Regions from separate parts of the Homo sapiens genome. Here region 2 is linked to region 1. The links come from fine-mapping of genetic effects on gene expression. A gene starts in region 1. The other region holds a variant in brackets. All regions are shown on one strand. Distances are from middle to middle.

The links. PIP is the estimated chance that this variant, and not a neighbour inherited with it, causes the effect.
Region 2: its variant is fine-mapped to the expression of NBAS in whole blood (INTERVAL, PIP above 0.99).

Annotation. Positions count from the first base shown.
Region 1 is chr2:15,554,416-15,566,282 of GRCh38, reverse strand. It overlaps NBAS (NBAS subunit of NRZ tethering complex), which reads left to right and starts at 4,949. Exons shown (of 52, transcript NM_015909.4): 1 at 4,949-5,095; 2 at 7,649-7,703; 3 at 9,464-9,500. The coding sequence starts at 4,979. LOC105373440 (a long non-coding RNA gene) reads right to left here and starts at 4,135. Exons shown (of 4, transcript XR_001739297.2): 1 at 4,100-4,135; 2 at 2,009-2,181; 3 at 1,085-1,218. RefSeq lists an enhancer at 4,750-5,159.
Region 2 is chr2:15,399,204-15,411,070 of GRCh38, reverse strand. NBAS (NBAS subunit of NRZ tethering complex) reads left to right here. Exons shown (of 52, transcript NM_015909.4): 26 at 8,770-8,903. Among named protein-coding and RNA genes, the nearest start is that of NBAS, 160 kb to the left of the region's middle. The variant A/G (reference allele first, on the strand shown) is at 7,150.

The DNA of each region.
Region 1 (11,867 bases):
AACATAATTTTTCTCTTCAGAATGATTTATTCATAAAAAAGAAACTAAGAGAGAGAGAAAAGAGGCTGGGTGCAGTGGCTCACACCTGCAATGTCAGCACTTTGGGAGGCTGAGAGGTGCGAGGCTCACTTGAGGCCAGGAGTTCAAGAACAGTCTGGGCAACATAGCAAGACTCTGTCTCTCCAAACATTTAAAAGAAAAAAAAAAGACTTATTCATGATTTCAAATATTTTTGAACCAGAGATGGACTTTCAGCTAAATTAAGGAGTTGATTAGATGATCACAATAGTATTTGTCAACCAAACTCTTACATATAATGTATTTAATTTTCCTTTGACAGGTTGATAATACCCCAGTTCCACGTGTTGGTACTCCTGGTCATCCTTAACTGTTTATTTTCACTTTGAACCATCTGAGTGCTCCATCTATGTTTTTAAATAATCTTTTCCATGACGTTCTCGGTAACATGTGGTAGTTTAAAGAAAAAGCACGGGATCAAGACCTGAGGACCTTGTCTGAATTTTAGCTCTGTTGTAATCTTGGATTTCTCTAAGCTTTAATATTCTTATCTGTGAAATAGAGATAGACTCTGTCTTCTGAGTCTGTCAATTTTAGCAGTGGCTGTGAGGATGGAAAAGCTCAGTAAGCTATGAACACTCTCAATTATTAACTAATAACACCAATCTGTCAATTCAGAAGCAACATTGCAGAGATCCATACACAACATACAGATTCTAAATTTGGTAAATCTTTAGCTGGGTGTGGTGACACGTGCATGTAGTCCCAGCTATTTGGGAGGCTGAGACAAGAGGATCGCTTGCATCCAGGAGGTTGAGGCTACAGTGAGCTGTGTTTGCGCCACTGCACTCCAGCCTGGGTGACACAGCAAGAGCCTGTCTTAAATAAATACGTACATAAATAAATAAGGTAAAATCCTTATTCCAACCCGTGTCTGATATTCTATATTTTAAGGTAAAATAAATAATGCAAACTCCACTGGTAGAAACACCAAGAGAGGGGTGGTTTCAATGCCTAGAAACTCAAACTAGTTGAAGCATAAAAGAGAATGAACTAGATCACTTACCTGGGAAGATGGAATCATACAGGTGTCTCTTGTTTCAAGCATGCTTGTATCAGATGAAGTCTCTACCTCTTTCTCTTCTCAGTTTTTTTCAATGTATTGGTTTCATTCTTTCACTATATAGACAGGCTTTCTCTCTGGAATGAATAAGATGGATGCTAATAACCCCAATATTCTTCAAACTCTGTGACCCAAAAAGGCAAGGAGCCTTTTCCTCCATTTCCACTTAAAAAAAAAAAAAAATCCCAGGGAAGGATTCTCAACCTGATGCTCAAAGTAGCAGGAATGGAGTTCTTTGGGTCAAGGGGGCAGAGTTTGGGGATTGGCGGCCCCACTAGGAATTATCTGACTGAGTGAATGAAGAGCAGCTAGAACAGTCTCCGAAGGAAGCAAAGGGCCTGGGCAGACAAAAATGACCAGTGTCACTACAAGCACGAGGGAAGAAAGAAGAGAATAATGACGAACAGAAGAGTCTTGCTATCCTTGTGAAACGCTCACCACCTCTTCATTAAATTACCCACTCTGCTGTTTAGGATTAGTGTGACAATCATCTCAGTTTGCCCATGACAGCCCTGTTTCATGCTTGTTGTCCTAGCATAACTATTAAAATCATGGCTTTTTCTTTTCAAAAATATCCCAGTTTGGATACTTTGCTATATAGTCACTGTAAATAAGACCAAGTAGCAATTTGGCTTCAGCCACTCAATCTGTTTTAAGTCATCCTATTCCTTTGATTCAGTTGAACTTGATCAGATCTTTGTCTTTTCTTTTCCAACCCGTGTCTGATATTCAACATTTGGAGTTCTTCTTGTGGCATACATATTCTTACCATCTTCTTCCCTTTTATTGGTCACCTCACATTTCTCCCCTTCCAGGAACTCTTCTGGATTTTAACTAGTGGTGCTGAAGGTTTAAGAACCCACTTACCTGCTCAGAGCATCTCTGCTAGTAGAATTTTTCTTCCAGGGATTGCTTCAAGTTAAATGTATACTCCCTCTCCAAATAGCATAGATTCATCCTGTGACACTTCGGTTGTTGTTTCTTCAGAGTAGAAGCTCTCTGCCAGGCATGAGTTTATGTTTTCTGTCCTTTTGTACATGCTATGGTAAGTGGGGTATGGATGAGGATGGATAAAACAATTAACATGGTGTGAGGCTGGGCATGGTGGTGCGTGCCTGTAATCCCTGCACTGTGGGAGGCCGAGGCAGATCACTTGAGCCCAGAAGTCCAAGACCCCCCATCTCTACAAAAAATAATAAAGTTAGCCCAGCATGGTGGCATGCACCTGTGGTCCCAGCAACTCAGGAGGCTGAGGTGGGAGGATTGCTTGAGCCCAGGAAGTAGAGATTTCAGTTAGCTCTCTTTGTGCCACTGCACTCTGGCCTCAGTGAAAGAGTGAGACCCTGTTTCAAAAACAAAAACAAACAAACAAAAATAGTGTGATGATGGTAAAATAAATAAATTCTTCATGGTGTATTTGCAGTGGTCCCCTTTGCACACCAGCTAAGAAGGAAGCATCCTTTGCCAGTTTGACCAGCTATCTCCTGGCCGTGGTTGTACAGATTGAGTGAAAGTGGTGAAGAGAGTGATGAAACAGAAAGCAACCCCAATATCTATCTGAGAAAGGATGAGACAGAGGAATAAAGAGCCAAGGAAACTTGGTGTGGAGAAATAGGTGGGGTTGTACTGAGGTACTGGAGGACTCCAGTAACCAGCCCTCACACCGCATTCCATGTGCATGGTGTTCCTGCCTCTTCATGTTCTACCGCATGCAATGTGGGCGGGGCTCCCCGGAGGTATACAGTTTGTCAGCCTTGTGCGGTAGGGAGAAGACACGTCTGGTGTTCACAATGAGGGGTTTGATTGAAGGGCACAGCTGCTATGCAGAGAAATACTATGGGGAGACAATGTGTAAAAGATTTTCTGGGAAGTCTGTCATTTATTCAACAAATAATATATATTTTGTCCTCTGCTCTATGCCAGGCACTGTTATAAATTCTGGGGATATAGCAGGGATGGATATAGCATTTGCATGCATATAGATAGAGCACCTGGCATGGCTTACCTTTTAGTGAATGGAGACAGATAATAAGCAAATATACTGTATAGCCATTTAAGTGATGACAAGTGTAATGGAAAAAATAATAGAGCAGCTCTGGAAAGCTGGAGTTGGAGAATGGTCATTGCAAATTTAAAAATGAGCAGTCAAGGTAGGCTTCAGAGAGAGACGACATTTGAGCAAAAACTTGAAGGAGATAAGGGAGGAACCAGGTAAACATCTGGTAGAAAGCCTTCCAAGTGGAGGGGACAGGCTTTGCAGAACTCCTGAAGTTGATGTGTGTCTGGTGTGTTCAGAAATAGAGCCAGTGTGGCTGAAGGTAGTAGGGGGAGCAGGAAATGAGGTGTGAGATTTAGGGGAGCAGGCAGATGACGTAGGGCTTTGAGGTCATTAAACTTTGAGAGAAATGGGAGCTGGTTAGAGGCTTCCCAGCAGAGGCTTTTAATTGCATCACCGCCTAATGCATCTTGATGGATATCATGAATATAATTATCTCAAGGGATATTCAGTATTTGTGTTTCTTTTGATGTGAAACAGTGTAATACTTTGTACAGTATATATTCATTCATGTTACAGTAGGCTCTGCTTATAACTGTCCACAAAGAGGTATTTGTTGAATGAATGAATGAATGAACAAATGGGGTTGACCTTTTCGCTCCCTCCATGCGGGTTCTCAACCTATTATTTCAACTTTATTGCCCCTACACCCTTTCTCAACTTGGGTTCTATTCACCCGTCTTGTTGAGTACTAATTAGGAAAAAAAAAAAGGCAGGCTAGTGGGAGCAGGGAAAAACAAAGAGATAAGGCAAATTAGCTATACGTCTGTCTTTCTTCATGGTCCAAAACATATAAACAAAAGGAAGAAACAAATAAGCCATAGGTCTACTTTTCTTTATGGCCCAGGACATATGGCCCTTCTACCCAGATAACGTACTTAACTCACAAACTTCCTGCTTACCTTCAAATGCCTCAATTTCTGAAACACTTCAGCTGACAAAAAAAAAAAAAAAAAAAGAAAGAAAGAAAAAAAAAAAGCAAGTTAACTCCCTGCTACCTGGTGTTATCAATCACTCCAAGTTCCAGTCTATAAAATTCTCAACAAGCCTTTGTTTCCTAGCAATGAGCTCCTCCTCTGCTGAGTCGGCCCGCTGCTCCCTGGCAACGAACTTTCATACTTTCTTTAATCTGTCTTTCTTTATCTACCACTGTCTTGGTAAATTCTTTTACTCCCACACTGAGAAAGTCGTCACTCACTGGCGACACGTTGAAAGAGTTCTTTCAACTCTGTATTTCTGCCTCTGTCTCTGCTCATTCCATTTCCCGCTACTTGAAATGCTTCTCCAGTAGATTAAAATTCTGCCTATTGTTAAAGACGCAGGGACAAGCTCCACGTCCTCCAGGAAATCCCTGCAGACTCTGGCCTTCGTTGCCTTTTCTGAGCTCCTGTAGCATCCTTCCTCTGCTACCTTTCATTGGATAACTTTAGTTGTTTATTTTAAAACCACTGTTTGAACTCTCTCTACGTGTTAGGCAAAGAATATACAAATGAACATTAGCATTTCAGTGGGGTACCTTTACCATTTCTGTTTTATGGAAACTGAGTTATAAGAGAGGCTCAATGACTTGGCCGATCTCATGTAGATTAATGAACAAGGAGTGTATCAGGACCGGGACACAAGTCGTTCCCAAGACAAGCAATAGTCCCTGTCCTTCCTACTCATAAAAGGGTTAACCTAGCATTTCCTTGCCGTGAAACAAAAGCGGCCGCGGATAGAGAAGCTTGTCCTGTGAGGGATTCCGTAGAGACACTCCTCCGCTGCCTGAGTCCTCGGCGAACATGGCGGCCCCCGAGTCAGGGCCGGCTTTGAGTCCAGGCACTGCAGAGGGTGAGGAGGAGACGATTCTCTATGACTTGTTGGTCAACACCGAGTGGCCACCGGAGACTGAAGTACAGGTGAACCAGGCCCATCTACAGCAGCAGCCAGCTTGGCGCGGGCGCTTCGTGGGTAGAGCCACGTAGCAGGAGCCACGTAGGGGAGTGGAGACGGGTGGGTGGGGGACTAGGGCCGGTTGGCTTGTGCGGTCGCCTTGGCAACGGCACCTTGGGCTAGCGGGGGTCTAGGGCGGGGTGGGGTGGTGGTCCCTGAGATTCTTCCTGGGCTCAGAATTCGGTTGTTGGGGGCTGGAACTTCGTGCTCTGGGGAGCGTACGATCCCACTTTGGTTCTCAGTTTCGCTCTCTGTATTGGGAGGAGAGGGGATTGTTAGTGTCGCTCTCTGTATTAGGAGGGGAAGGCACAGCGCTGGACTCGAGGGTCCTTTCTCCTATCTGGACCCTCAGTGGTCCCTTCTCGCGGTCTGGCTAGGGCTAGTCTGGGCCGACGCTCAACTGCGATGGGAGAATTTTCCAGGACCTTACAGTCTGCAGCATCTGCCAGGCTGGTGCAGAGCGCAGAATCTGAGCCTTTACCCATACTGGGGGCTGGATCGCGCCAGGTCTTGTGTGTTTCAATAAAAGAGCATTTAATAAGGGTGTGCGTGTCCGTTCGTCTGTCTCGGTGTCACAGGTGCTGTGCTAGGTGCTAAGGATACAGAGATGAATATGTTTTCGTGGAGCTTCTCGTCTAGAGGGGAGACAGTCCCGTAAACGTTTTTCATAACCTAGCGTTTTATGCGCTATAGTTAGCGATGTGAGCAAAATGCCACGGAAGTGCAGAGTAAAGAGCTGCTGACTGGGATTGGGATCTCCGCTACAGAAGGGTTATAGAGGTTGATAATTTATGGACTGGATCTTGGGATTATCAGTTGTTTGGTAGTGAAGGCCTCCCGGGTCTGTGATGAAGAGTAGGAACCATGGATCCATGTTTATTTTATTTTATTTTTTATTATTATTATTTTTTGGATCCATGTTTATTTAACAGATATTTATTGAGTGCTTAACACGTGCCAGTTACTGTTTTAGACCCAGAGGAAGCAGCCAGATCGAAAAGAACCTTTATTAAAGATTATGTAGTCCAGCCCATGTGAGTTATCTTACATTTTTTCTGAGTGTTTCTTTGCTGGAGAAACGACTCATTTTTCAGCCCAAAGTTTGTATTTTTTTCCTCTGTAGCCTCCTTCCCACTGCAGTTTGTGCTTATCATGAATAATTTATTTTGTAGACGGGTAGAGATCTGCATATATTACTGTTTAATTTCAAGTACTTAGTTTGTCTTAATGTGAATATTTTTTGGGTTATGCAGCTAGGAAGCTGTTGCTGAGGCAGCTGGTTAGATAAGTTTCCACTCCTTAACACTCATTGGTTAATTGCAGTAATGTTTCAGAATGCTTACCATAAATTGATTCCAAAAAAGTAACCACAGAATTAACTTACTTTGAAACCCTTAGCACTTTGTTTTGTGTTTGTGTGTTGGGGGTGGGGGAGTTCAATTGATTTCTGCATTCTATCGATTTCTGCATTCTGTTGATTTCAGCTGTTGAATTATAAGCTCTTGGAGGGCAGACATCTGATTCATCTTTATATCTCTTCCCAGGGCCAAATTGTGTCTTGCATGAATCCAACAATCAATTCATGTTTATTGAGTGAAATAACTTTTCTGTGTTTTTTAAAAAAATCTGTCTACACTTACTGTATGTCCATTGTGCTTTTCTTGACAGCACTTTAGTGCATCTTATGCAGTGCCTAGCGTCATGAACCTACCCACGGTGTGTTCAGTCTATACTTATGGAATGGAATTATTTAATATAGCAATTACGTATCTGTGTATGTTTTGTTAGTAGCATTGTCTGTATAGATACACAACAGATAGTCAATGAATTGGCCTTGGAGATATGACCACTTTTCCTGTGAGCAAAACTTACAGCCTCAATAGAGTATGCTGAACTGGCAACCAGTATGGTCTTTGGCCTTGACTTCTCTTGTCTTTGGATTGGTTTTTGATTTGGAAACAGTTTCCAGCTTCAATCCTTGTTCTTTCCTGCAAGGTTAGTCCTGACATGTGCCTGTAGCTCTGCTATGCTCACTTTTCTCCTATTGTCCCGCGTCCTGTGTCTACTTTTTTTTTTTTTTTTTTTTTTTTTGAGGCAGGGTCTCACTCTGTCACCCAGGCTGGAGTGCAGTGGCATGATCAGGGCTCACTGTAGCTTCGTAGCTTCAACCTCCTGGGTCACCTCAGCTTCCCAAGTAGCTGGGACTATAGGCATGCACCGCCATGCCTGGCCAATTTTTGTATTTTTTGTAGAGATGAGGTTTTGCCACGTTGCTCAGGCAGGTCTGGAGCTCCTGGGCTCAAGCAGTCAGCCCACCTTGGCATCCCAAAGTGCTGAGATTACAGGCGTGAGCCACTGCACCTGAACATCCAGTCTTTAAGTAGTTTTAAGACACTGCTTCCCTGTGCCCAAAACTCTGAGTATTAGTAAATAAAAATAAGTTTACATATTGTATAAGTAATACTGGTCTAATACTACTAGAAGATTCAAATGTAAGTGTTTTTTGTTTTAAATTCCAGCCTAGAGGCAACCAAAAACATGGTGCATCCTTTATCATCACGAAAGCAATTCGAGGTAAATATAGCTTATTTCTCTACAGTAATGATATGGTTAACAGTTAAAATGTGTTCTTTAGACTTCTGATGTGGAGCCTAATAAAAGTAATGTGTGTTATCTGAGTTTAATTATATATATATTTATATATACACACATATGTATGTATATGTATACATTTGTATATTTACGCATGCACGTTTTTAGCTCTAATGCAGCTTAGAGCTAAAGTATATAGCTTTGGTTTAACCATTATGGATGTATTCTAGAACAGGTGTCCTCAATTCCTGGGCCATGGACTGGTACCAGTCTGTGGTCTGTTAGGAAACAGGCTGCATAGCAGGAGGTGAGCGATGGGTGAGTGAGCATTACCACCTGAGCTCCACTTCCTGTCAGATAAGCGGCAGCATTAGATTATCAGGGAAGTGCAAACCCTATTGTGAACTGCACGTGTGAGGGATCTAGGTTGCATGGAAAAATTGTCTTCCACAAAACCAGTCCCTGGTGCCAAAAAGGTTGGGGGACGCTGTTCTAGAAGGAATGAAGGTCAAAGCCAGTATGAGTCTCAGAAAGTCAGTGGATGTTGAAGGTGAAAATACACTGAGAGACTATTTTAAGAGGTCTATGTGGTGTTTCAGATAGATCTGGTCAGAGATACTCAAATTACAGATTTGATAAGCCAGGGTATTCATTTAACTCCTGACAAATTTTACGTATGAACTAACAAGAGTCTGAGAAAGGATTGAGCACTAGGTTTACTGAGCTGGTGCCATGACGGGTTTACCATATTCATTAATAGAGTCCTTTTATCAGACCAGAAAGGTGCCGTTACTCCTTTATGATTTTAGATAAGAAAACTTGCTCAAGGTCATTCATTTGGAATTTGACTGCATGTCTTTCTGGCTTCAAAGTCCATCCTTATACCAGTGAATTTAAGTTCCTTATAAAGAGAAAATTCATTTTCACAGAAGTTAAGTACTTGAAATTAACTGTAATCTTCTGATTATCCTTTTATCTTCTGATAAAATTACAGTTAATTATAGTTAATTTTATCTTCTGATACAAGAAGCACTAGCATATTCAGTTTTCATAATGACAAATGCTTTTAAATTTTGAGAATTTAGAAAATGTGTACAAATAATAAAAATTCATTGTAGAAAATACAGACACTATAGATAACTACAAATTAGAAAAAAATTTGTCCTCATACCACCTAGAGAGAATCTGTTATTCTTTAGATATTTTTCCATTGATATATACCTAACTGCATACACAGGTACACACATACATGTACATTTAGGATGATAGAAAGCATTGTTTTTTATAGCGTGTTAGAGGTTTTGTTTTCCGTGGGCTTTCCCATTTTAGGTATTACTGTTTTAAAAATCTTTGCTATAAAGTGTAAAATATATCTTGCTTTAATTTTTTATACAAATATTTTGGTTTCTAAGGGGTGATTATTATAACTTCTAGTCCATGGTTTCATGAAAGCTTCTTAGATTAAATTTAACATCTCAAACTGCTTTTATTTCTTGAACAGTTAGGAAATACTTGAAACTTTTGAATAACACACAAACATGGAATTTAATAAGTATATGACCCTGTAAATGTTACAGTGTATATTAGGTTATATTTAGTCTCTCATTTTAAGACTTGAGTTCTTTATTTTTTTTAATGACTCGCTCTGTAGTATATTTTAGATTTCTCATCTATAAATCTAATTTGAAAATGATTCTTAACAGCTGATTTATATTTGGCTTTGCCATTTCTTTTGATTACAGATCGTTTATTATTTTTACGCCAATACATCTGGTACAGGTGAGTCTTCGGTTCTTCAGAGAAACAGTATGAACATCAAATATAAACAATATTGTTCTATATATGATTTGTTTTCATAATTGAATTCTAGATCATGATAAAGTTGCTGACATTCAGGCAAACTCAGTATGAGACATTTCAAACATTTAGGTAGAATCTGACAAGATATCTCAGTAGACTTAGGGTAGTTTTTGTTCCCTTAGTTACTATTAAGAATGTCTCATGACAATTTCTGCTTCCTCTGATGACTATTCTCAGGCTTATCTTGAATGTCCATATGAAGCATCTGTAGCCTGCATATCTTTTAAAATACATTTTTGTTCTTGTCATGTCATCTCACTTGTGGTTAATATTCAACTGCTGTATATCAGAGAAGGTTCTTTAGGTTTCAGTTCTTGTATATTTTTTAATTCCTTGAGTGTTAAGTATATTTGCAGGGATGATGCTAATTTCCAGCTTTAGAAAGAACAAAGAAATTATTATTATGACAAAAAAGTTATAATTCTGCTTTTAGATACATGTGTAGGAATTGTTTTATAGAATTATTTACATAGATTGCTTCTTCGTTGAGGATATCTTGTCGTAAAGTTCCAGAGATAATATAGTTCCATAAAAGAGACCTTTGGCGTTCTCTAGGACTTGCTCCAACGTCTTTCTGCTTTTACTCTATGTATGTGTGTGTGTATGTGCATACATGTATATATGTATGCATATTTACAATTTCTATACTTAATTGTGTCACTTTTTTTGTGGGTGTGGGATATGATAGGATAGAGCAATGAGTAGGAAGAGAGAGTGGAAGGAGAGGATAGGAGTGTGGGAGGTGGGCTGTGTTTTCTGACTTCTCTAGGCGACAGCTTGTTAGTCCTGAACACCCTTGGATGAGGTGTCAAGCTTGTCTTGTTCAGGTTGCTGCTTGATAATTCTTTTTTTTATTTATTGAGAAGGAAGACTCAAAAAGTTAACTCTGCTACAAGCCCTGTCCTCTGTGTGAGAACCTTATGATCAGGCATCAGAAGTAGGTATCTTTTTGTCTCCCTTCCTCCTGAGAAGCCTTTTTCCTTGAATCATTGTACAGGTTGCAAATGCACCATTAAGTGATTCATCTGTCTCATGATATGCTGCTTTCAAAAAGATTATAGTTCAATTTGTGCTCTTGAGTTTATGGTAATTAAACCCAAAGGTTTTGGGGTCAGTATTTGTTTCAAGTGACTTTTTCTTCTTTTTTTAAAAAAGTTCTTTTAATTATGAAATATAAACATACTGAGAATTATTGACAATATAATAAACCTGTATCAGCTAGCTCTTTTTGTTTTTATGCAAAATGTTACATCTCAAGTCCTTTCCCTTTTTCTTTTCCCTTCCCTTCTAGAGGAAATTATCATCCTCATATAGGTAGTATTCACATACATGTTTTGTATCTTCATTATATTTTTGTAACTGTCTTTTGATATTATTTTGTGTTTTAAAAAATGAGCGTAAATGTACTACATGTATATTACTAATTTTTTTTTTTTTTTTAAGAGAGGGTCTTATTGTGTTGGTCAGGCTGGAGTATAGTGGCTATTCACAGGCAAGATCATGGTACACTGTAGCTTTAAACTCCTGTGCTCAAGCAATCCTCCTGCCTTAGCCTCCCGTGTAGCTGCGACTATAGGCACATACCATTGTGCCTGGCCACTAACATTTTGGAATCCTATTTTGTGTTTTCTGATTTCCATAATTTATTTTTTTTCTATTTCATGAAATTATGTTCTTTATTCTTCTTTTCCATCTGTTTTCTTGATTTCTTCGGGTATTAATCCTCTAATTTGCTGTGTCTGCTTACTCACTTATGATGAGTAGTTTCGTGTCTTTTGTGAATGGTTTTATTTTGAACTTATGCTTGCAGATTCTTGCATCACATGAGTAAAGTGAAATTGTAATCTGATCTTACATATAGTACAGACTTGGACTTTTACTTTTTCATAGGAGATTTTATTCTTATCCTCCACAGAACCATAGTTCCAGGGAGAGAAGAGAGTCTTTAGTCTCCCTGGGCCTATGGTGAGGTGTTTCTAGTTCTTTCAATGACCTGGTGCAGTCATTTGAGCATCCTGGCCTTTGCAGGAGTCTCACTTCCAACTCCTGTCCTCTCTTTGGTTCAGTAGCTCATTTCCTATCTCGTGTGCTAAGTCCTGTTTTGAGTTCTTATCTCTCTCTTTACCCTGTGCCCAATTCTAGCTTTCAGTGACTTTTTCATTTCTAGTACTTGGAAATTTATCTTTCTTTCTTGTGAGTTTAACTCTATGCTAGAATTTGTTTTTGTTACAGTTGAGCCAGAGTTCCTAGGTAGTTAGAGCAGAAAGGGTTGGTATAAGTGTACTC
Region 2 (11,867 bases), 160 kb after region 1:
GAGGGGTACCAAGCAAAAGAACAGGAGGAGGAAGCAGGCCAGTGCCTTAGCTCAGGCTGAAATTGAACAGTACCATCCGCAGAGGGAGAACGTGTTCAAGGCCTTGGAAGCTGCAGCACTGGGATCCCACGGAACTGCAGGAGACCCACGAGAAGATGCCCATCTTCCAGACCTACTTCTAGCAGAACTGGGATGAAGTCTTGGACAACCTTTGCTATATTGGCTAGAAATCCATGGAAACTTCCAGAAGAAAGGAGCACCTGTTTCATGGACTGGCATTTTAGATGCCCGCATGGAATATGAAGCTTTAGCAAAGCTCAAGTTATGGTCTTGTGAAAAGGCATTAAATTATTTCTGTATATTATACAGTAGGTGTTTTAATTTTTTGAGAGTAGCAAATCTAGCTTCTTTGTACAGACTTAGAACTTATGCAAAGATTTTATCTTTTTCCCTCATATTTCTTAGAAATTTAATGAGCACTTGTTGTCTGTTTTCCTATGCCTTTTAGTCAAATACACATGTATCAGTGTTGACTTTTTCTTTCTTAGATCTGGTAAGAAGAAATCCACTTCTTTGAAGAAAAAAAGGGATGAAATAATTTTTTTTTTGCCCTAACACTTTCTTGAAGGTCATGGGCTTTATGAAAAAGTATTAAATAGTTACTTGAACCTGTGAGAAGTTGCAGCAAGCCTTAAAGTAGTTTATTCTTGCTAACGGTTAGAATAATGAACACTTGGGAATTGTTTGGGCTACATTTAGTTTCTCTTAATCAAAATCACCAGATGATAGAATTCACAAACTTTCTACATGTTATTACTTGGTATACTGATACTCATTTAAAATTAAAGATTCTTTGTCATGCAGAAAATAAAAGAAAAAGAAGAAATAAGACTTCTATATAATGCCATGGCTCTTTAAAAGATGCATTGTCAATAATGTAGAATAGGAAACTGCTTATCATTGGCACATGAAGGTAGCAGAGGAGCATGACTCCCTGGGTATGTATTCTGGATTCTAGGGGAGTGGGGAATGTGGGGGCAGGGAGTTTCTTTCTGAGCAGTCAAACAACAGGCTTGCCTAACATGAATTTGTGCTTTCAATTAATACGCCTCTGTGACCTGTGATAAAACTGGACATGGGCTGGTGATACCTAGTTTGCTTGGTAGCAGCAAAAGCAAAACCTCTCTGAAGGACTCACTTTAATCTAGATTGTACAAGATTCTTATAGATAAAGCTTTGATGAGGATAAGTTTACAATCCAACTTTATAAAACACAAAAGGAAACTAAACTTTGAGCAAAACTCCGTGGCAGGCCTTGCTCCACTTCCCCTCTGGTAATAGATGATCAGATGCAGGCTATAAAATGAATATTTTAAATATTTAGGATATGAGGAAAGAAATAAAGACATGAGATAGGAAGGAGAAATTGTGAAAAAAAGAGTAAGATTTGAAAAAGAGCACATAGAACTTCTAGATTTGAAACTGTAATAATAAAAGCAAAACATTAAATGGATGGATTCAAAAGAATTTTGGCTACAATTAAAGAATTGAAATCTTGAAGATAATCTAAGAAATTTTCTGGATTGTTACACATGAAGGTGAAGAAATGAAAAATATATGGGGTTAAAAGACATTGAGGATAGAGAGAGCAGGTCTGTCATGAGAGTAATAAGCATTCCAGGAAGAGAGACTAGAGATGACAATAAGCAGACAGTATTCAATGTGGGACTTTCCTAAAATCAATGAAAGATACGAGGTGCATTCAGATCTTGAGGAGGATAAGTGAAATACAGTTCAGCCTATATTTAGATGTACTCTAATGGAACTTAAGGATACCACGGGCACAGAGAGAATCTTAAAAATGGCCTAGGATTAAACAAAAGTTACAGTCAAAGGAAAACCGTAAATCTGAAAGCAGACTTCTTAAGAACAATGGATACCAGCAGACAATGAAATAATATATATGTGTTAAATGTCAAGGAAAATTAACCTTGATATTTAAGTCAACCTAATAGTTAATGATAGCCAGGATTTACTTGATGCTTTTAAAATAACTTTTTGTAGGGATGGTGTCTTGCTACGTTGCCCAGGCTGGTCTCTGGAACTTCTGGCCTCAAGCAGTCCTCCCAGCTCAGCCTCCCAAAGCACTAGCAATACAGGCATGAGCCACCACGCCTGGCTACTTAATGCTTTTTCTTTGGTAGTTATGTTTTAAACATTTCACATGTATTAACTCATTTAATTTTTATGACTATATAGCTATCATTGTTCGCATTTTATAGATTCAGAGAAAGCAGAGTAGTTAATTAGCTTGCTCACATTATATGTTTCTTATTTACTGATGCATTAGGGATTTAAGCCTAAGTAGTATGACTTCAAAATCTTTAAGCCACATAGTATACTGCATTTCTAACCCAGGATATTTTACTTAGAGACACTATCATTCAAATGTGAATGTAAAAAAGACTTTTTAAAGATAAGTGAAAACAGAGAGTTTATCATTTACAGACCCATCCTGAAAGAATTATTCAAGGATGTACTTCATGAAGAAGGAAATTATATACAAAAAGAAAGTAGTGAGATATAAGAGGGAATGATAAAGAGTGGGGAAAAAATAATCATACTTAGGAAACAGTAAATATGAGAAAAATATAAAGCATTCAGTGTATAAATTAATAATAATGAAAAAGTATGGGAAGTATTAAAAGCAAGGTGAACAATAGTAAGAAGGTAGTTTTAGCATCAGAGTTAAAATGACCAGAGGATCTGAATTGTTCAGGTGTTGGATGAGGATAATCTTAACCAGACTTTGAATAGTCAAGTATGCGTATTACTTTATTATATTTTTATTCTGAAGTATAGCACATGTGGTAGGTAGAATAATGGCCTCCCAAAGTGTCCATGTCCTAATTCCTGAACCTATGAAGATGTTACCTTACCTGGCAAAAGGGGCTTTGCAGGTTTGATTAAACTAAGGACTTTTAGATGGCAAAGCTATCCTGAATTATCCAGGTGTGTCCAGTCCTTAAAGGTAGCAGATCTTTCTGGCTGTGGTCAGGATGCTATAGAATTGTCAGATTGTTGCTGTCTTTGAAGATAGAGAAAGGGGCCTTGAGACAAGTAGTGTGGGCACCCTCTAGAAGCTGGAAAAGGTAAGGAAGTGGGTTCTCTCCTAGAACATCAGAAGGAACACATTTATTTGCTGACAACTGAATTTTAGCTCAGTCAGGTCCATTTTGGTTTCTGACCTACAGAACTGTAAGAGGATAAATTTGTGTTAGGTCACCAAGTTCGTGGTAATTTATTATGGCAGCATAGAAAAATAATATGGCATAAATACAGAAAACTACAAATAATGTATAAGGCTAGACATTTTTCTAAAGAGAACACCTGTGTAATTGCCATTGAGGGTCTTTTTTAAAATTTTGCTCATTCTGCTGTGTACGTAGCAACATCTCCTTGTGGTTTAATTTGCAGTACTGTGATATGGAAATTATCCTTTGCTAGTTACCCGTGTGGCAAATAATCTCCACTCTCTTTGCCATTTTATTCTCTGAGTAGTGAAGTCACTGTCATCTGATCAGGGATTGAGCGGTTTCAAGTTTCAAAAAGACTCTCCTATTTCCAGTTCTCCCCTATTCCTAGGGTGTAGTCCTCCAGAAAGTATCAGAAGTATTGGGTGATTACTAGGCCCCTCTCCTTGGCAGGTCCTGGACTCCTGTCCCAGCAAGATATGTTTGCGGAGGGCATACTTAACCCCTTAAACTTTTGGCTGCAATTTTCTGTGCACTTTCTCTTGGTCTATGGTCCTCAGGAAGTGAAAAGTACCTCTCAAGCTATGCTATTCAAAATGGTAGTCACTAGCCACATATGGATATAAATCTAAATCTAATAAAATTTTAAAAACTTACTTAGTCTCACTAGCTTTCCATGTGTTGGGATACATGCCATTCCCAATATTTTTGCAATTACAAGCAGTGCTTCAATGAATAACCTTGTCCACATGTATTTTTATATTATTGGTGTATTTTCAGCATATATTCCTGGAAGGAGACTGCTGGGTTTAAAAAGGCAAGAGTTGTCTTGATGTAGCCAAATTTTTCTTTAGTAGGACTGTTCTAATTTACATTCCCACCAGCCAAGTAGGAGTATGCCCGTTTCTCCACAATTTTGCCAACAGAATTTGTTGTCATATTTTAAAATTTGTGCCAATGTGATAGGTGAGAAATGGTATTTCAGTGTTGTTTCAATTTGTGCTTTTCTAATTAAGAGTTTTAACATTTTCCGATATGTTAGATAGGCATTACCTCTCTTGTGAATTTATTCCTGTCCTTACTCCATTCTTCGATAGGGTTTTTGTTCCTTTGTACCTTAATTTTTAGGAATTCTTACATATTCGTGTAACTAACCCTTTCTCTGTGGCATATATTAATATTTCTCCCAGTTGGTCAGTTGTCTTTTGACTTTGTTTATTGTGTCATACAATGTTTTCACTTTTTAATTTTTGTGTAGTCAAATTGTTCGATCTTTTACTGCCTCTGTATTTTGAGTAATAGTTGGAAAGCCTTTTCATACTCAGAGTTAAGGAAGAATTCTCTCACGTTTTCTTCTAGTACTTGCATGGTTTTATTTTTCTCTTCCCAATTTATTTGGAGTTTATTCTTTTGTATTGTGAGACATGGATCTGATTTTATTTTCCCAAATGACCACGCAGTTGTTCCAGCATCATTTATTAAAAAGTTTACCATTACCCTAGTGATTTGAAATGCCACCTTTGTCATATACCTAAATTTCCATCTGTACATGGGTTTAATTCTAGAGTTTCTATATTCTACTGGTCTGTCTGTCCATGCACTAGTACTTCATGATTTTAATTATAGAGATTTTAGTGTGTTTTAATGTCTGAGGAGGTAGTATTCCTCTGTGGGTTTTTTTCCTCATGTTTTTTTGTTTTGTTTTTTTTTTTTACATGTTATTGTATATTTGTTTTTCTATCTGAACTTTAGTAACAGTTTGTCTACTTTCATAAAATTGCTTATTGGTATTTTATTGTGATTGCATTGAATTTGTACATTAACTTAGGGAGACCAATATTTGTATAATGTTCAGTCATCTTATCCAATAATAGCGGATGTTGTTCTATTAGTTTATGTATTCTTAAATCTCTTTTAGAATTGCTTGAAAATATTCCTCTTAGATGTTTTGCACATTTTTTGTTAAATTTATTCCTAAGTTTTAAGTTTTCTCTGTTTATACTATCTACCTTCATTTCCTCTAACTATTTAATGTTTGTGTATATAAAAGCTATTTATATGTTAGTTTTGTATTCTGCTACTTCACTGATTTGATTGCTTGATTCTTTGGGATATTCCAGGTATCCTATCTTATCATCTGTGTTCTTTTCTAGTTGTATATAGTGCATAATTTTAAGAGTTTTTAGAAATTATTATTCTTTTGCATTTTACCTTGCTATGCAGTATGGGTGATGATCTGCGGCCTATGGTGTGGAAGACTCATTTCATTGACTTCTTAGGAAGTCCCAGATGGGCTGTCCTCTTTTAGCTTGAGAAAGGGCAAATGACAGTATAAAAGTGACAACTGAGATAATAGGGAAGGAATAATGAAAAAAAAGTGTGTCTTAGACTATATGAAGTTAGGCATCTTATAGGGATTCTAACAGGGAAAGATTGAAAAATGTCTTATAAATTTGAACAGTATGTTTCATGTACATGATAGATTATATTTTAAAAGATATGCAGAATGGCATAAGAAGAGAAAAGAAATGTGCCATAGGAATACAGAGAGAGAAGGGTATCTTATGTATGAGAGTAGTATAAGGACTTATTCACTGGACTAGCAACTGTTGAGCATACTCCAGGACTGTAGACATCTGGGAAAGCTGAATTTAAGTCAAAGTCAAACGGAGATAACACTGGATTATTGGGTAGGTTTTAGACATGGCAAGACATGTCTTCTTGAGAAGACATTCCAGGTAGGAGTAGACTAAAACAAGGAGACATAATCTGGTTAATATCATGTTTAGGTAAATGCAAGTAATTTAATTTGAGTGAAATAAAACTTTATGTAGAAGGGTAAGTGGTTCATGGGAGCAGGCCATAGAGGTGTTTAAGTGGAAGGCAAAAGATTTATTCTTTACCTTTCATATTGAAGGACTGTTAAAGGATTCTCAACGTAAAGTTTGAACATATGTGGTCAAATATGGACTCAAGGACATTGAATGTAAAAGTGGTTCTTTAGGGCCGGGCGCAGTGGCTCATGCCTGTAATCCCAGCATTTTGGGAGCCTGAGGTGGGTGAATCACCTTAGGTCAAGAGTTGGAAACCAGCCTGGCCAACATGGTGAAAGTCCATCTCTACTGAAAATACAAAAATTAGCCAGATGTGATTGTGGGCACCTGTAATCCCAGCTACTCAGGACGCCGAGGCAGGAGAATCGCTTGGACCTGGGAGGTGGAGGTTGCTGTGAGCCGAGATTGCACCACTGCACTTGAGCCTGGGCGACACAGCGAGACTCTGTCTCAAAATAAAAAAAAAAAAATTAAAAAAAAAAGTGATTATTTAATGTCTCACAGAGGGAAAGATAGGAAGTGGGGAGAACAAGTAAGACATCAAGGACTTTGGCTTTTATTTCAAATGGTTTCCCAAATTGTTCCTTGACTGAAATTGGTTTCAGTGTTTTTATCTTCCAGGGATGTTTTCTTACCATATATGAGTGTTTTATTGCCATATCTTCTCTCAATTTCTTTCATTCTTCCTGAATGCAGGATTATGAGAGCCTGTCTTGCTTAGTTTAGGCTCTGGAGCCAATTGCCTGGTTTGAATCCTGGCTTTACCACTTATTAGCTCTGTGGGTTCAGGCAAATTATTTGACCTCTTAGGGTATTTGTTTTTCATTTGTGTATAATGAGAATAGTACTAGTAGTAATTTTATAGGATTGTTATGACGATTTATGAATTAGTGCACACAAAACACTTAGAAATGGTACCTGGCACACAATAAGAAATCAGAGGGCTGTGTGTGGTGGCTCATGCCTGTAATCCCAGCACTTTGGGAAGTCGAGGCAGGAGGATCACTTGAGGCCAGGGGTTTGAGACCAGCCTGAGCAACATAGTGAGACCTTGTATCTGG[A/G]AAAAAAAAAAAAGTGTATAGACACACACACACACACACACACACACACACACACACGAAGGAAGGAAAAATAAATCAGGAAAAGGTAGCTGTTTTTATTAATTTTCAACAGTACTTATTTTTATTACTGTCAGCTTGTTCCTATTTTACCAGTTAGTCACTTTGCAACCTTGGTTAACTCTTTGTCAGATGACATTTTTCAGATGAATACGTTCATCCCTCAGTATCTGGGGGGGATTGCTTTAGTACCCCTCTTAAGCCCTCCTGCCGCCAGGCTACCAAAATCCATGGATGCTCAAGTCCCTGATACACAATGGTGTAGTATTTGTGATAACCTTTGCACATCCTCTTGTATACTTTAAATCTTCTGTAGATTACATATAATACCTAATACAATGTAAATGTTATGTAAATAGTTTTTATACTATATTGTTTAGGGAATAATGACAAGAAAAAATGGTCTGTACATGTTCAGTACAGACACTTTTTCCCCCAGATATTTTGGATACATGGCTGGTTGAATCCAGGGAAGTGGAGCCCACAGGTATGGAGGGCCAACTCTACCTTGAAGAAATGTATATAAATCCTTTAATTCAACAGCTTTGGAAAACTTTGTTTTCCTGGTAACCTTGAAAGTTTCTTTTTTACGTCCATTGATGTGATTTTTCTACTGAGAAAATGCCCTTGTTTGGTAGCTTCTCTCCATCACTTTCCTATCTCTTTTGTGTTTACTGATGAGTTTCTACTAAAACATTGAAAACCAGTAGACTATTATCATGGAAATTATCTTAGATTTATTTTATTGTTCAAAAGAGCTCTAAGAAAATTACTTTCATTTTGGTTGCTGTGGTGCTAATAATATAAGCATGCAAATGATTTTTTGCTGTATTTATTTTTCATTCTATATTTATTAATTTAATCCTTGAAATAGTCTTCTTAGAAAGGTATTGTTAATATTCATGCTTTATAGATGAGAAAAAAATCAATTGGTTATTTTCATATCCTGGAAAATACTCCAAGAATGGGAATCTGTGGTTTGCCATGGGAAATGCTTTGTTCTATACAGAAAGTCACCCTAAGTAGCCATCTTTCTTCATCAGAAATATGGAATGTGTTCTGTGATTTGTGTATTGATCTATTACAGTTGGATTTCTTTTGAATAGAATGTCAGCACTCTGTAGTTAAATGAGTAATATATAATGCCTACTGAAAAGTAATAGGTTGTAACATCTTTGAATATTAGTTAAGGAATTTTATATAACTTTGTAACTGAAACACATAGAATTTGGCTTCAGGGTTAGAAATGTTCTTAATGAATTGCCTTTTTAATTCACAGTGTTTCTTTTTTCTATATTGACTGGGTCATAAATTGAAGAATCTGTTTTCAGCTGATACATAGCTTATGGGGTTACAAATTATCTTTTATAGTTGATCTGTAATTAAAATGTGATTTCAGTTAGAATTATTAAAGACCCCAGAAATCTATAAAGAAAAATCAAGACTTGTTTCTATAGTTGATTAATTGTGCTATTTAATATTCTGTTGACAGTAGTATTGGGATATGGAAAAATTGACTATAAATCTGTTGACATTTAGTACAACATACTTTATTTTCTGTAGCTGCAGCAAAAAATTATTCCTGATCAGGACCAACTGATGGCAATAGCACTAGAGTGCATCTATACCTGTGAACGAAATGATCAACTCTGTCTTTGCTATGACCTACTAGAATGTCTGCCAGAAAGAGGATATGGGTAAGAATACACAGTATGCCAGTCTTATTGTGTTTTTTTATTCTAACAGTTAAAACAAAAACGTTGCTTCCCCAAATGCTTACCTTAGAGAATTTTGGGAATGTGAAAAAAACATAAGGAAGAAAATAAAATTATCTGCAATCCTATTGCCTAGGATAAACATTTCTTGTCCTACCAATATATGGGAAGTTCTATATTTTGTTCAACTGTAATTATAATTAAATTCTGAATTTTGTCAAACATGATAATTTCCTATTGAAAAACAAAAATACCACCACGATCTCCACAAAAACTACTTTTTATAAGTCAGTAGGTAGTAATTGTGTTTTTAATGAAGCATTTTTCATATTTATTGGCTAATTATATTTATTCTATGAATTATTTCTTCTTGGCCTTTGCCTATAGTACTTCTTTTAAGTAGTGAATGTACCTAATTTTTAACTGCTTTTATGTTTAAATGGAAACGTATATAATATGCTTTTGGATTATTTAGTTGTATGCAAGTCAAATTTGTATGTTTTCTTTGGAAGTCAGGTAGCAATCTAATCCCTCTATTAAATTTAGCACATATGATAAATTTCACATCTGGAGACATAAATAACAACACATGAAAGAGTGGTGAATACCAGCAGACCTGTTTTAAACTTTTATGACTTTTAACCAAGTCACTTTACTTCTTTGGTCATTAGTTTCCTGATTTACAAAATCAGATATTTAGACAAGAAAGCCTCATTCTCTGTTTTCTCTTTCTCTTTGCTCTCTTTTTATCTTCTCCCTCTTTTCTCTCTTTTCCTTTTTCTTTTAAGGACATTTTTATTTCTTCTTTTTATTTTGGGAGGGGGGGCTCATATCTGACTAAAGGAAATTTTTATTTCTTATGAAGCAAATGATAGCAGTCACCAATTTTGCAATCTACCATGAAAGAGTTATTCATGCAGTCATTAGTGGTACTGAAATCAGGTGAAAGATTGATGATAAAAGGTTATTTGCATGATACCAAAGTATTACCCTAGTGACTTTTTTTTTTTAAGTTTCAAAGTTGGGCTCTAACTGCCATGATCTTAACCAAGTCGTGAAGGGTGGCATAACTTACAGTCAGACAGCCTGACCTTACGTGCCTCCTGATGTGATCCAATATGAAGTACCTGGTCTTACAGCATCCCTTAAGAAATATTTTTGCTAAAGTTGTTTACCCTGAGTCTAATCAGTCTTTTAGGTTGAACTTCTAATTTGCAGTTAATACGGGAAATAGAGAGACAAGGTAAATAACACCATGAAGAAAGCAGTAAGACAACTACTGAATGTGGGATATTCTATGCATTAACTGGTCTTTTTACTTTAAACAGTTAGTGTCATTTAGGAAGACAAAATGTGGGGCCGTGGGGAGGCACTTTTCTAAAATAAAGGAGCCTAAAGGGACATGATCTTCCTCTGATTTTTAAATATAAATAATGTATGAACATAAAGTCAGGGAATTCTAAGACTGGTATTAGTAATATCAGCTGATAAGCAGCTGTTTGCTGCCCACTTTTCCCATCCTTGGATTCCTATCTTCAAAAAGCAAATACTTTCACTGGTAGGTTTTTCCTTGTCTTTGCCTACCTCCTTTAAAATGTTATGCTCGTGTTGTTATTTTTTGATTTTGCAATTTTAGATCATTTTTGACTTCCTTTTATGGAAGTCCTTTCCCTTCTCCCATATCCACTTCTCCTACCATTCTCCAGTGTTTTCATCATTATGATTACGTAAATATTGTTTATACTGCGGAACTAGGTGTGATTTATTTTCCTTTTAATACAACTCTCTGTTTTTCCTGGATTGAATAATTTCCTTTTCTGTTGTTTTCTTTTTTTCCATCACCCTCATGAACTACTTGCAGTCGTGAAAACTATTTAATGATCTCTCTATTCCTTTCATGTTTTTTTTTTTCTCTGTCTCTTCTTTTCTCGCTCTCTTCCTTTTGAAACATCCTTCTTGGAATTGGTATGAATGAATTGTTCTCTGTGTCTGTTGTCCATCTATTATCCCGGGACTTCGTTTGCCTCTCTCTCGTGTTGCATATTGCATTTCTTGGTTTTCCTTTCTTCTTTCTTCACTTTTTCCTCATTTTGGTGGAGCATACTGTCAAATAGCTTCCTGTCAAAGATTGCCTGGGAGGTATTTTTTAAAAGACTGTCACATATTAGGAAAATGCCACAATTGCACACTTTTACTTGGTAGAAGGTTTAATTGTACATGGAATCATAGACTTAGAATCCTTATCTTGTGAATTTTGAAGGTATGACTCTTGTCTTTTCTTTCTAGTATTGTTGAGAAGTTCAATGGCATTCTGAATAATCCCTATTTAAATATGGATTTTTTTTAAAGAAGATTTCAATATCTTCATTTTTTGTGTTTCTGTTTCATATGTAAATTCATTGTGGTGTTCACTGAATGGTCTAATCCATTCTGGAAATTCATAACCTTCAGACCTTTAGGGTATGTTCTTATATTTTTTCCTTGATAAGTTTATTTGTACTCCTCTTTTTTCTTCCTTCCTTCTTCATGTAGGGAAAGGTAAATCAGAGTGGACTCAGCATCTGTTTGTTATTCAGACCTGTACCTGAACACAGGCTACCTCACATCCCTAGTAGAGAGCAGCAGAGTGTAGCAAGTGTGTCTCTGAGAACTGTAGGCCTTCCATAGGCAGCCAAAGGCAGGTAAACTAGATAGTCTTAATAGATTTTTGTAGCAAACTGTTGTTCCCATCATTTAAAAACCTCAACCCAAAGGCTATCAGTGTGGCAGTAGTCAAATTGCTTTTCCCTGGAGGGTGACAAGAGATGCAGAAGCCCCTGGTTCCTCCGAGAGCTGGAGTGGCAGGGAGTTTCTTCCTTGCTGGGCTCTGTGGGAACCTTATGATTCCTCTGTCAGCTTCATATCTCATTTCTTGTTCCTAAGTCGACCAGGCAAAATCACTGACTT